Linked DNA regions of Homo sapiens: region 2 is linked to region 1. Evidence: fine-mapped expression QTL. A gene starts in region 1. The other region holds a variant in brackets. All regions are shown on one strand. Distances are from middle to middle. Region 1 holds the start of PADI6 (peptidyl arginine deiminase 6). Region 2 overlaps PADI6 (peptidyl arginine deiminase 6).

Evidence for each region. PIP is the estimated chance that this variant, and not a neighbour inherited with it, causes the effect.
Region 2: its variant is the best candidate, but not a certain one, in a credible set for the expression of PADI6 in memory regulatory T cells (Schmiedel 2018, PIP 0.58).

What each region holds. Positions count from the first base shown.
Region 1 is chr1:17,369,879-17,375,249 of GRCh38, reverse strand. It overlaps PADI6 (peptidyl arginine deiminase 6), which reads right to left and starts at 3,054. Exons shown (of 16, transcript NM_207421.4): 1 at 2,889-3,054; 2 at 2,017-2,194. The coding sequence starts at 3,004.
Region 2 is chr1:17,391,035-17,396,405 of GRCh38, reverse strand. It overlaps PADI6 (peptidyl arginine deiminase 6), which reads right to left. Exons shown (of 16, transcript NM_207421.4): 9 at 4,181-4,292; 10 at 2,324-2,431; 11 at 1,952-2,106; 12 at 1,299-1,455; 13 at 743-866. Among named protein-coding and RNA genes, the nearest start is that of PADI6, 22 kb to the right of the region's middle. RefSeq lists an enhancer at 1,486-2,685. The variant CT/T (reference allele first, on the strand shown) is at 2,215.

The DNA.
Region 1 (5,371 bases):
CTAAGGACTTAGAACCTGCCATGACCCCCAACCCTAACCTTGTCGAGAGCCAGGCTTGAAACCACCTGTCCACGTGAGAGCTGTATCCCTGATGGCGGGGTGATCAAGGGACTTATCCCAAAGGGATTTAAGAAACAGGCTGCCTGGCTCTAGAGCCCAAGCTTGAAACCACACTATACATCCTCCCTGCTAAACCCACTCTCCTGGGGTCCCATGTCCTACTCCATAAGGTGCACGGTGGGGAAACAGGCCTCTGGTGGCTTAAGCTGCTCACTAAGAAGGACACCCAGGTGAAGAAGCAGCGTTGGGACTCAGTCCCAACTGTGGGACTGTGTCCCACACCAGCCTCTACTTTATGCTTTTAGAAAGAGACCTGCCCTCCAGCCACTGACCCTGACCACAAGGTCTTGGTCATGAACCAGAGACCCAACCATTGGCCAGAGCATGTGACAGATCCACCCCATCCTTAAATAGAAGCTTTAGTCCTCTAAGTTCAAGGTTCTTTGTTGGCCACTCCTGAGGGTCCTGGAGGCCGAGCCCTGGGCAGAGAATGGTTCTCAGGTAGTCTGGAGTTCCACTGGCACCCACCGTGGCCTCCATTCTTATCTGAGATACCTTTTTTTGCGATGGAGTTTTGTTCTTGTTGCCCAGGCTGTAATGCAGTGGGACAATCTCAGCTTACTACAACCTCCACCTCCTGGGTTCAAGCGATTCTCCAGCCTCAGCCTCCTGAGAACCTGAGATTACAGGCACCTGCCACCACACCTGGCTAATTTTTGTATTTTTAGTAGAGACAGCGTTTCACCATGTTGGCCAGGCTGGTCTCAAACTCCCGACCTCAGGTGATCTGCCCATCTCAGCCTTCCAAAGTGCTGGGATTACAGGCATGAGCCACCACACCTGGCCAGAGACACTCAGTTCCTACCTAAGTCCACTACTTGCCTCTCAGGGAGTTGCCTGCCCTGGGCACACAGCGCAGGTGGGTGTGTGTACCTACCCCTCTGCAGCAGACATCTCCAGTAGGTCCTGTAGGGTGTGGGGGGAGGGAGGGAGAGCTCTCCCAGTCCTGAACTGCTCCATCATGGTTCTCACCCCCAGCCCCGCACTGGGTGCACCTGGAGAGCTTTAAACCAGCGGCCAGGATCCTAGCCCTGAGGTTCCATTGGTACCTCAGGTTTAATTGGTAGAGGGGGTGTGGCCTGGGTATTGATGTTATTAGCTCCCCAGTGGTTCTCACCTGCAACCAAGGTTGAACACTCCTGCCCTGAATGAGCCACCTGCTTCTACCACAGGAGAACCTCCCCAACATAGGCACCCCATTAGGGAGACAGCTTACCCAGGGGAGAATACACCCTTGGGCTCAAGCTCAAATCCTGGGTCTATCCCACTCTAGGTAGGCTACTTAGGTTTAGACACAGCACTCTGTGCCTTAGTTTCCTCATATGTAAAGTGATGGTAGGCCAGGTGTGGTGGCTCATGCCTGTAATCCCAGCACTTTGGGAGGTGGAGGCAGGTAGATCACTTGAAGTCAGGAGTTTGAGACCAGCCTGGCCAACATAGTGAAACCCTGTCTCATACTAAAAATACAAAATTAGCCGGGCATGGTGGTGGGTGCCTGTAGTCCCAGCTACTCGGGAAGCTGAGGCAGGAGAATTGCTTGAACCCGGGAAGTGGAGGTTGCAGTGAGCTGAGATTGTGCCATTGCACCCCAGTCTGGGCAATGAGCGTGAGACTCAAAAAAAAAAATAATAATAAATAAATGAAAATAAAAAATAAATCCCAGTCCTGCTGGTTGCTGACTTGGCAGGGCACCTTCGCTAGGTGCCTCTGTTTCTTTGTAAAATGGGGTCATGGAGTGCCCACACCACTGGTCTGTTGCAGACACTGGATGAGATCAGACGTGCAAAACAACGTGTTTCCCAGGCTCGAGTCACGTCTGCAGCCAGGAGGAAGCCCCAGTGGCTGTGCTAGGTCCCACCCCGGGAGATGCCCCTCACCTCTTCCCCTGAGGCTTACCTTATCCGCATCCACGGAAGGGCTGGGCGATGTCATCTTCACTGTGGCGTACGTGGGATCAGACAGGGGCCACCAGATGGTGGCGTCCTCCTTCTCAGAAATCACCGTGTTGGCCACATCGATCAAGACCCTCCCAGAGCCATGGATGGTGAAGCACTGGCACTTCTGGGGGGCACACCTGGTTTGCCCGGTAAGAGACACGCGTCAGGGCACAAACACCTTCTCAGCCTAGGAGATGACTGGCATGGGGGAGGGGACGGCTCCCGAATCCTCATTCTCCTTAGGGTGTTGAGGCAGAGTGGTCTGGGGTCCTTATTCCTACCCACCCCCTCCCAAAGGACCCCTGTGTTTGCTCTCCGACGGGCTCCAGCCCAAACCCCATCCCGCTACCGACACTGCAGAAGTTACCACAGCTACATCTTAGTAATAAGCACCCAATTCCCAAGAAGGGGGGAGCCACAAAGGATCCCCATAAAGAAAAAGATCAGGGCAAGCGACTCAGGAAGTTGTACTGTGACCCTGCTGAGTCACCTCCACCTGCAGGCTCCAGCATCTAGCAGTCTCCCTGGCCTGCTCCTCACAGCCCCCCGAGGCCAGCGTCCCCATGGTTTCACAGATAGGGGAACAGAGAGGCCAAGGCCCTTGCCTCACTAAGAGTCCATGGCAGCTGCTACAGGGCAGAGGCAGGATTTAAGTCAGAATTCTGCGTGGTTGGAACTGGGAGGCCCCCCACTAGAGACCCAAGGCTTCCCAAGATGGGGCAGGATAGTGAGGCTAGAGAAGTAACCCCCAACTCCCAGATCAAGGGGACTGGGTCCCAGGCCTGCCTGCCTGTCTGCCTGCCACCTCTGGCAGAGCTCCCAGCATCTCACCCGCTGAGATCCAAGCAGATTTCTGTGCCCAACACACAAACGGCATGGACAGGGCTGTCCAGGGACAGGTGGATGATACTCTGGAAGGACATGGCTCGGCCCTCCACGCTGACCATCCTCAGGCCTGCACCGCAGCCCTCACTCAGCACAGCAGCCTCAGACGCCCCAGGGCTCACCCTGCCCTTCCCTGTTATACAGTCCAGGCCTGTGCAGGCCACCCCCTTGTTAAGAAGGGGAGGGGTCAGCAGCTGCCCAGGTGTCACTGATTTTCCCTCTAAGAGCTTCCTGGTGGCTGATAGTCTGGGGAGCAGGTGGCATCAGAACCCCTTCATCACCAATTTATCAGGCACCTCGTGCCTGCAGAGCTGCAGGCCAGGGGAGTCTGAGGCCGGTTGCTTAGGCATCTGTGGCCTTCAGCTGGGAAGAGGAGGGGCTCTGGGAAGTCGGTGCCTTGGAGTGATCAACTTGGCCATGTTGCTGGAGGACTCAGCTGGAAGCTGTCGGGGCAAATACCTGCAGAGGGCAGTTGGGAGGAGTTGATGGTAGCAGTCAGGATGGCAATGTGTGGCAGCATGCCCAGGCTCTGGGGTCTCAGTTCTAGGGTGTGTGTCTCCTGGAAATTGACGAAGGAGCTCGGCAAAGTGCTGGACTGGTGGTTTGGTTTTGTTTTTGAGACAGGGTCTCTACCCATGCTAGAGTGCAGTGGCGCAATCATAGCTCACTGCAGCCTCAACCTACCTGGCTCCAGTGATCCATCTCAGCCTCCCAAGTAGCTGGGACTACAGGTGTGCACCACCATGTCCAGCTGATTTTTGTATTTTTTGTAGAGACCGGGTTTTGCCATGTTGCCCAGGCTAGTCTCGAACTTCTTGATCCCAGAAATCCTCCTATCTCGACCTGCCAAAGTGCTGGGATTACAGGCGTGAGCCACAGCGCCTGCCTAGACTAGGTGGTTATTAACCCTCTGGTGGTTTCAAAAATTATCAAGGGTGCTTGTTAACATTGCAAATTCCTGGGCCCAGAAGGTCTAGGGTGTGGTCCAGGAACCTGCATCCCAACCCCCAGTGATTAAGGTGAGCTCTTTGCTTACAGCTGTGTCGGTGGGGGTGGGGGCACAGCAAGTGTTAGTGGAATGAATACATCAAGCCAGGGTCATCAGCTGCTACTCATCTCAGCGGAGCCCACAGAGCAAAGAAATAGGAACCCTTCTCTGGCACAAGGAACTTACATAACTGACTTTAAAATTGTGTTCATTTCATGTCTTAAGCTTGGGTTGAGTTTTTTTTTGTTGTTGTTTTTGAGACAGGGTCTCACTCCGTTACCCAGGCTGGAGTGAAGTGGCGTGATCATGGTTCACAGCCTTGACCTCCCAGGCTCAAGTGGTCTTCCCACCTCAGCCTCCTGAGCAGCTGGGACTACAGATGTGCACCACCATGCCCAGCTAATGGTTTTACATTTTTCCGCAGAGATGGGGTCTTGTTATGTTGCCCAGGCTGGGTCATGCTTACTCCTGAATAGGTACCACAGTCACATGATTCCAAGTTCAGAGTCTCCCTCCTGCCCTGTGCCTTACCCACCTGCAGGTGGAGGTAGTGACAGTGTTACCCGTTTCTTATATGTCTTTCCAAATAAATGTTATGCATGACCAAGTAAATATGTGTGTGTATCCTTTTCTTCTTCTCTTCCTCCTCCAATACTAGCATACAGTTAGATAAATTTGAAGGGGCTTTATGGTGAGAAAGGGAAGGACGTGGAGTCTATTTTAAGGTTAAGGGAAAAAGGCTTCTGCAGGTTCCTTCGAGGTTACATCTCGAGACTAAAGAGAAAAGTTGTAAAATGTGCTCAAAGTTAAGCTGCTTGGTTACAATTACAAACTTTTCAGTTCAGTGGAGATGCCCCTGGAAGCCCATTGGGTTATCTTTTTTGAGGAAGGACAAGGAGGTCATTTAGTCATTTGCTCCACTAGAATTGCTGAACACCTACTATGTCCGGGGCGCTTTTGCTCTTTTCTTCTCTCCTCCTACTACTGTCTTCTTATATAAACGGTAGTATGTGCCACCCAGTATTCCATACCTTGCCTCTTTCACTTCATAGTTATACTGGAGAGAAGTTCTTTGTATCAGTACGTAAAAAGCAGCCTTACCCCTTTGTACAGCTGTGTATTTTACATAGGGTTGTACTGTAATATAAACATTTGTTTTCAGCCTTTGCTCTAATATGCACCCAGGTGTACCCAGCATAGGAGGTGGAGATGAGGTACTGAGTGAAGCCTGTTCGGTCAGCCAGGCTGGCTAAATTTGCAAGTTGCAGTAAAAAATTCCCTCCCTGGAGGTTTTAAGCACTCAACACAACTCTCAAGGATGTCTCTGTTTTAGTTGCTCTTGGAGGCAGGGGGTTGGTCAGCAAGACCCAAAATGCCCCTCTGGTTGGATTGAAAGTGGCAAAATTAAGCAGGCAGGAAGCACTCAGCGTGCAGAGGCTCT
Region 2 (5,371 bases), 21 kb before region 1:
TACAGCCTTTATTATTTTTTGAGATGGAGTCTTGCTCTGTGGCCCAGGCTGGAGTGCAATGGCACGATCTTAGCTCACCGCAACCTCCACCTCCCAGGTTAAAGCGATTCCCCTGCCTCAGCCTCCCGAGTAGCTGAGATTACAGGCATGCACCACCATGCCCGGCTAATTTTCGTATCTTTAGTAGAGATGGGCTTTCGTCATGTTGGCCAGGCTGGCCTCGAACTTTTGGCCTCAGGTGATCTGCCCGCCTCAGCCTCCCAAAGTGCTGGGGTTACAGGTGTGAGCCACCATGCCCAGCCCACTCCCACAGCCTTTAGATCAGAAGTGCAATGGCACCAGCCACACCACCTCTGCTTGTCCACCTGTGTGTTTCCTTAATGTAACCAGGAGACCCACAAAGTCCCAGTCCCTAGATACTTAATCCAACATGCCCTGAATAAATCCAGGCACTAGCATTGTTAACACCCGTTTTCCCCCCACTTGGGGCCACCTATGTACTAAGTGAGTCCCCCTTCAAATACATCCAAACAGCCTCCAGGCCATCCCAGAACATCTGGTCTACTTGTGTTGTAGTACCACTAGAGCAGCCCAGAAATAAGACGTTCTAATATGGCAATTCCAACAGCTTCTGTGCTTCCCTGGCATCCTTTACGCCAAGCGTGACAGAATGGCTATGTAGAAAGGACCCCTGGAAAAAGGAAGACCCCAGTTCTGTTCTGTGGAAAGGGAGTTCCCTTACCATTAGACAGGAGCTGATCTGCTCTAAGCTCATCAAACAGAAGAGCGTCGCCATAGCCTTCCTTCTGTTTCTCTCGGAACAGTTTATAGCAGGCACTGGGGCTGGCCAGGAGCAGCAGGAAGCCCTGGGAAACAGAACTTGGGTCAGAAGCCAGCTTTCTCAGCTGGACATGGTGGCTCATATCTGTAATCCCAGCACTTTGGAGGCCGAGGCAGGCAGATCCTCTGAGGTCAGAAGTTCGAGACCAGCCTGGCCAACATGGTGAAATTCCATCTCTACTAAAAATACAAAAATGAGCCAGGTGTGGTGGCATGTTTCTGTAATTCCAGCTACTCAGGAGGCTGAGGCAGGAGAATTGCTTGAGTCCGGGAGGCAGTGGTTGCAGTGAGCGGAGATCACGCCACTGCACTCCAGCCTGGGTGACAGAGCAAGACTCTCAAAAAACAAACAAAAAAAAAAAAAAACAAGAAAAAGCCAGTTTTCTCTCCAGAATCTTCCAAGATTCCCCAACAGAAGGCAAGGGTCAGATGTCCCTTCTCCAGACCCCAAAGCAGACCTTTTTGCCCTCATTCTTGTCATCTGTGGGGATGAAGCACATGAACTCATCCACGTGGCCAGTCATTAGCCAATCTGAGTAGAGCTCCACCGGCGCTTGGACCTGCTGGGCATAGAGGAAGTCTCGGAGGGTCTTACTCATGGCCCGGCCCTCTGCGCTAGAAGGAAGATGGAAAGAACAGCTCTTGAGCCAGTGTGGCCCAGGGCTGGTCACCCGCCACTTGGTGTCATGCTGCCTCCAGGGAGCTGGCCTCTGACCGTTGTGTGAAAGAGGCCGGTCCATAGCGGATGTGTTGGTTACGAATCCCTTACTCTGACCCCACTCAGAACAGAGCCTAGTGTTTCTAGACAGACAAGCCCGGGCACAAGTATCATTTTGGATTTATGGCCACCAAGAAATCCAACCACATATCTCTTGGAAATGACATCCTGGTGGACCAAATTTCACTTGTTTCAGTTTAAACCCTGGAATCAAAGAATAAATGGTTTATTCTCATCTTTAGTCTCCCACGTGAATCAAAAGCTCAAATGTCTTCAGTTTAAGAAATGGTCCAGTGTGTGTGACCTGCTGAGGTGCTATGGGAAGCAGGCGGGGCCAGGGGAACGACCATGGTCCCTTCCTTTCATTTGGAGGCGTCTGGCTTTGTGGCTCACCTGGGGTAAAAGCTGCTGCCAATGAGGACTCTGCCCAGCGGGTACTCTTTCCCTTGGACCTTGACAGGTGGGGACACCATCAGGTTCCCAATGGAATCCATGCTGGCCACTTTATGGTCCTCAGTGTCCTGGATCATGTAGCCAATACCAGGGCTCTGGGGGAGAGACCGAGCCAGGGAAGGGGTGTTAGTAGGGGATGGCTTTAGGCCCCAGTCTTATCCCTAAATCCAGGCTCTCAGGTAGACTTCCACGTCCCCTCCCCC[CT/T]CAGAGGCCACCTGGGCCCTCTCCCCACTTGGTGCCCCATTATTTCTAGGCAGGCCCCAGGCCTGAGAGATTGGACTGAGCTCAGATTAGCCAAACCAAGTTCCACACCAGTGAGTACTTCATGGGGAACTCATCGAGATCGGCGGCCTGAGGTGTGTCGAGGATCAAGGACGTTGTCTTGTGGGGAGCCTGGGTGTAGCAGAAGGCCATCTCATCCTGGAATGGAGAGGAAGACAGATTGTTTGCCAGTCACACATCTCCCCGGACCCCATTTACGGAAAAGGTACGGTAAGAACCCCCTTCCTTCCTGCCAACTCCTGCTCAACCCTCAACACCCAGCTCAGATATCACCCCTTCTTGAAGGCTCTCCGATCCCTCTCTCCCCTACTCTTCAGGTTTAAGACTTGAGCATCCATGGCCAGGTGTGGTGGCTCACGCCTGCAATCCCAGCACTTTGGGTGGCCAAGGTGGGTGGATCACTTGAGCCTAGGAATTCAAGACCAGCCTGGGAAACATGGTGAGACAGTCTACTTAAAACAAAACCAAAAAGTTAGCCAGGCATGGTGGCTCATGCCTGTAATCCCAGCTACTCAGGAGGAGGCAGAGGCTGCAGTGGAGCTGAGATCGCGCCACTGCACTCCAGTCTGGGCGAAAAAGACTTGAGCATCCAGATTCTTCCTTTCTTCTTTCGTAAAGAATCCATTAACAAGCCTTACTGGCTTACATTCTGAGTCAGCTCTGCGCTGGTGCCACTCAGGAAGCCACCGTGTCTCCACCCTATGCCACTGTGATGCCTTCCAGTTTCGCTTCTATTCTTGCCTACTCTTAAGATCTGTTCCCTACATCTTAGCCAGAGGGGTCTTTTGAAAACCTGAACTATAACCTTTCATTCCCGATTCATGCTTTGAGTGTCTCTTGTTTGTCCTTAGCTTAAAAGGTACCTTAACCAGGAGGTAGCCCTGCCTTTCACCTTTGTTCACTGTGATCTGTCTGCATCAGCCTTCTTCAAGACCTCCAAGCACAACCCCAGATTTTTTTTTTTCTTTTGAGACAGTCTCGCTCTGTCATCCAGGCTGGAGTGTAGTGGCGTGATCTAGGTGCACTGCAACCTCCGCCTCCTGGGTTCAAGCGATTCTTCTGCCTCAGTGACCAGAGTAGGTGGGACTACAGGCGCGCGCCACCATGCCCGGCTGATTTTTGTATTTTTTTAGTAGAGACAGTATTTTGCCATGTTTTCCAGGCTGTTTTAAAACTCCTGACCTCAAGTGATCAGCCTCCCAATGTGTTGGGATTACAGGCTTGAGCCACTGCACCCGGCCAGGAACTCCTTTTAATCCTGGCCACCCCTGCCCCAAATCTCTGCATGGCCAGCTCCTTGTTTCCTTAAGTTTCATTTGCAGATTTTCCCAACTATTCTTAAACTGCCTCATTTGGTCTAATGAATCACTGTATCATCTCATTGTCTAAATTTCATAGCACTTAAAAGTTCTATCCTTGCTAACATGGGACAGCATATGTTCCAGTTTATCTCTGGTGCTCAGGATGGCGTGCCTAGCATGTGATGATCACTCATCTGCAGAGGACAGAGCTCTAGAACCGAAGGCTGACCGGGGCTCTAGACTTGGTGCTGTGCCAGAGTCAGGCGGGACCCCAGGGCAGTGGCCCAGCTCTCACAGCCTTAGCCAAAGGTATCAGAGCCTTCCGGGGCCTGGGGGTTAGGGTTCTGTGGTCTTGAACACGTGTCCATTCTGGAATGGGAAGGAGGCTGGACTCTAACTATTCCTTAGTGGCCATGACTCAGGCAAATCCTCATCTGAGCCTCCACTGAAGTCCTAAGAACAGGGCCGCCCCTATCAAGGCTTCGGTCTTTAAGGTTAACCAGAAGCCTGTGAAGTTCCTCTTAGGTGGCACATGCTGAGTCTCCCCACCCCTCCCCGACAGGTGGGTTCCCAGGTGGGGTGTTACCTGGAGCCACCTGCCCAGGCGGTTGGGGTCCTCATAGACAGATGCCACCTGGCTGTTGCTCTTCTCACTCAGCTTCGTCACTGTGTCCACAAAACCCTGCAGCTGCAGCTCCCTGCCATGGGAGAGAAGCCAGTTCTGGGAAGGCTTTCGAAGGTCCCTTACTGGTTATGACCTCCTTGTGCCAAGAGAGGAAGAACACATCCTTCTCACCAGGAGAGGTTACATCCCTGCCCGTGAGGTCGACAGAGCAACCATCCCTGACCTCGGCACAAGCCAGAAGCTCAGAGCCCATCTTGTCTGACACTACTCAGCTTTGCCCATGGCAGAGCCAGGTTGGGAAGTGCCAGTGGCGGCCCCTTCCCTGGTAGCCAAGGCCTGCTCTGTTTATACCCTTCGGTCACATTCTGCAAGTACCCTTCCTTTCGTTCTGTCACCCAGGCTGGAGTGCAGTGGCATGATCTGACTCACCGCAACCTCCACCTCCTGGGTTCAAGTGAGTCTCCTGCCTCGGCCCCCCACAGTAGCTGGGACTATACGCCTGCCACCATGCATGGTTGTCATTTTTATATGTGTGGCGTTGGGTGGGTCTTGAGCCCTGGGGTCTTCAAGCCGTTGTGCACAGCATCAGGCTCACAGATCTACAGTGGCCATCCCTTCCTTGAAGGGAAACAGCAGTGTGTGAGGCTGATGTTAAGACCACTCATCTGGCCGGACGCAGTGGCGCACGCCTGTAATCCCAGCACTTTGGGAGGCTGAGGCGGGCGGATCACCTAAGACTGGGAGTTTGAGACCATCCTGGCCAACATGGTGAAACCCCATCTCTACTAGAAATACAGAAATTAGCTGGGCGTGGCAGTACATGCCTGTAATCCCAGCTTCTCGGGAGGCTGAGGCAGGAGAATTGCTGGAACCCTGGAGGTGGAGGCTGCAGTGAGCCAAGATCACACCACTACACTCCAGTCTGGGCAACGGAGCGAGACTCCATCTCAAAAAGAAAAAATAATAAATTATCTTAAACAAACGGAACAAACAGGTCCTCAAAAGTTGGAGGTCAGCAAGGCCCTAATATTGGGAGATATTGAAATTGGGACTGTAGTCCGGCTTCAGGTCCAAAGCTCATGTTGCTACTAATAGAATACAGCAATGTAACTACTGGCATAGCACATTCATAGTATCTATGCTACTGCTCCA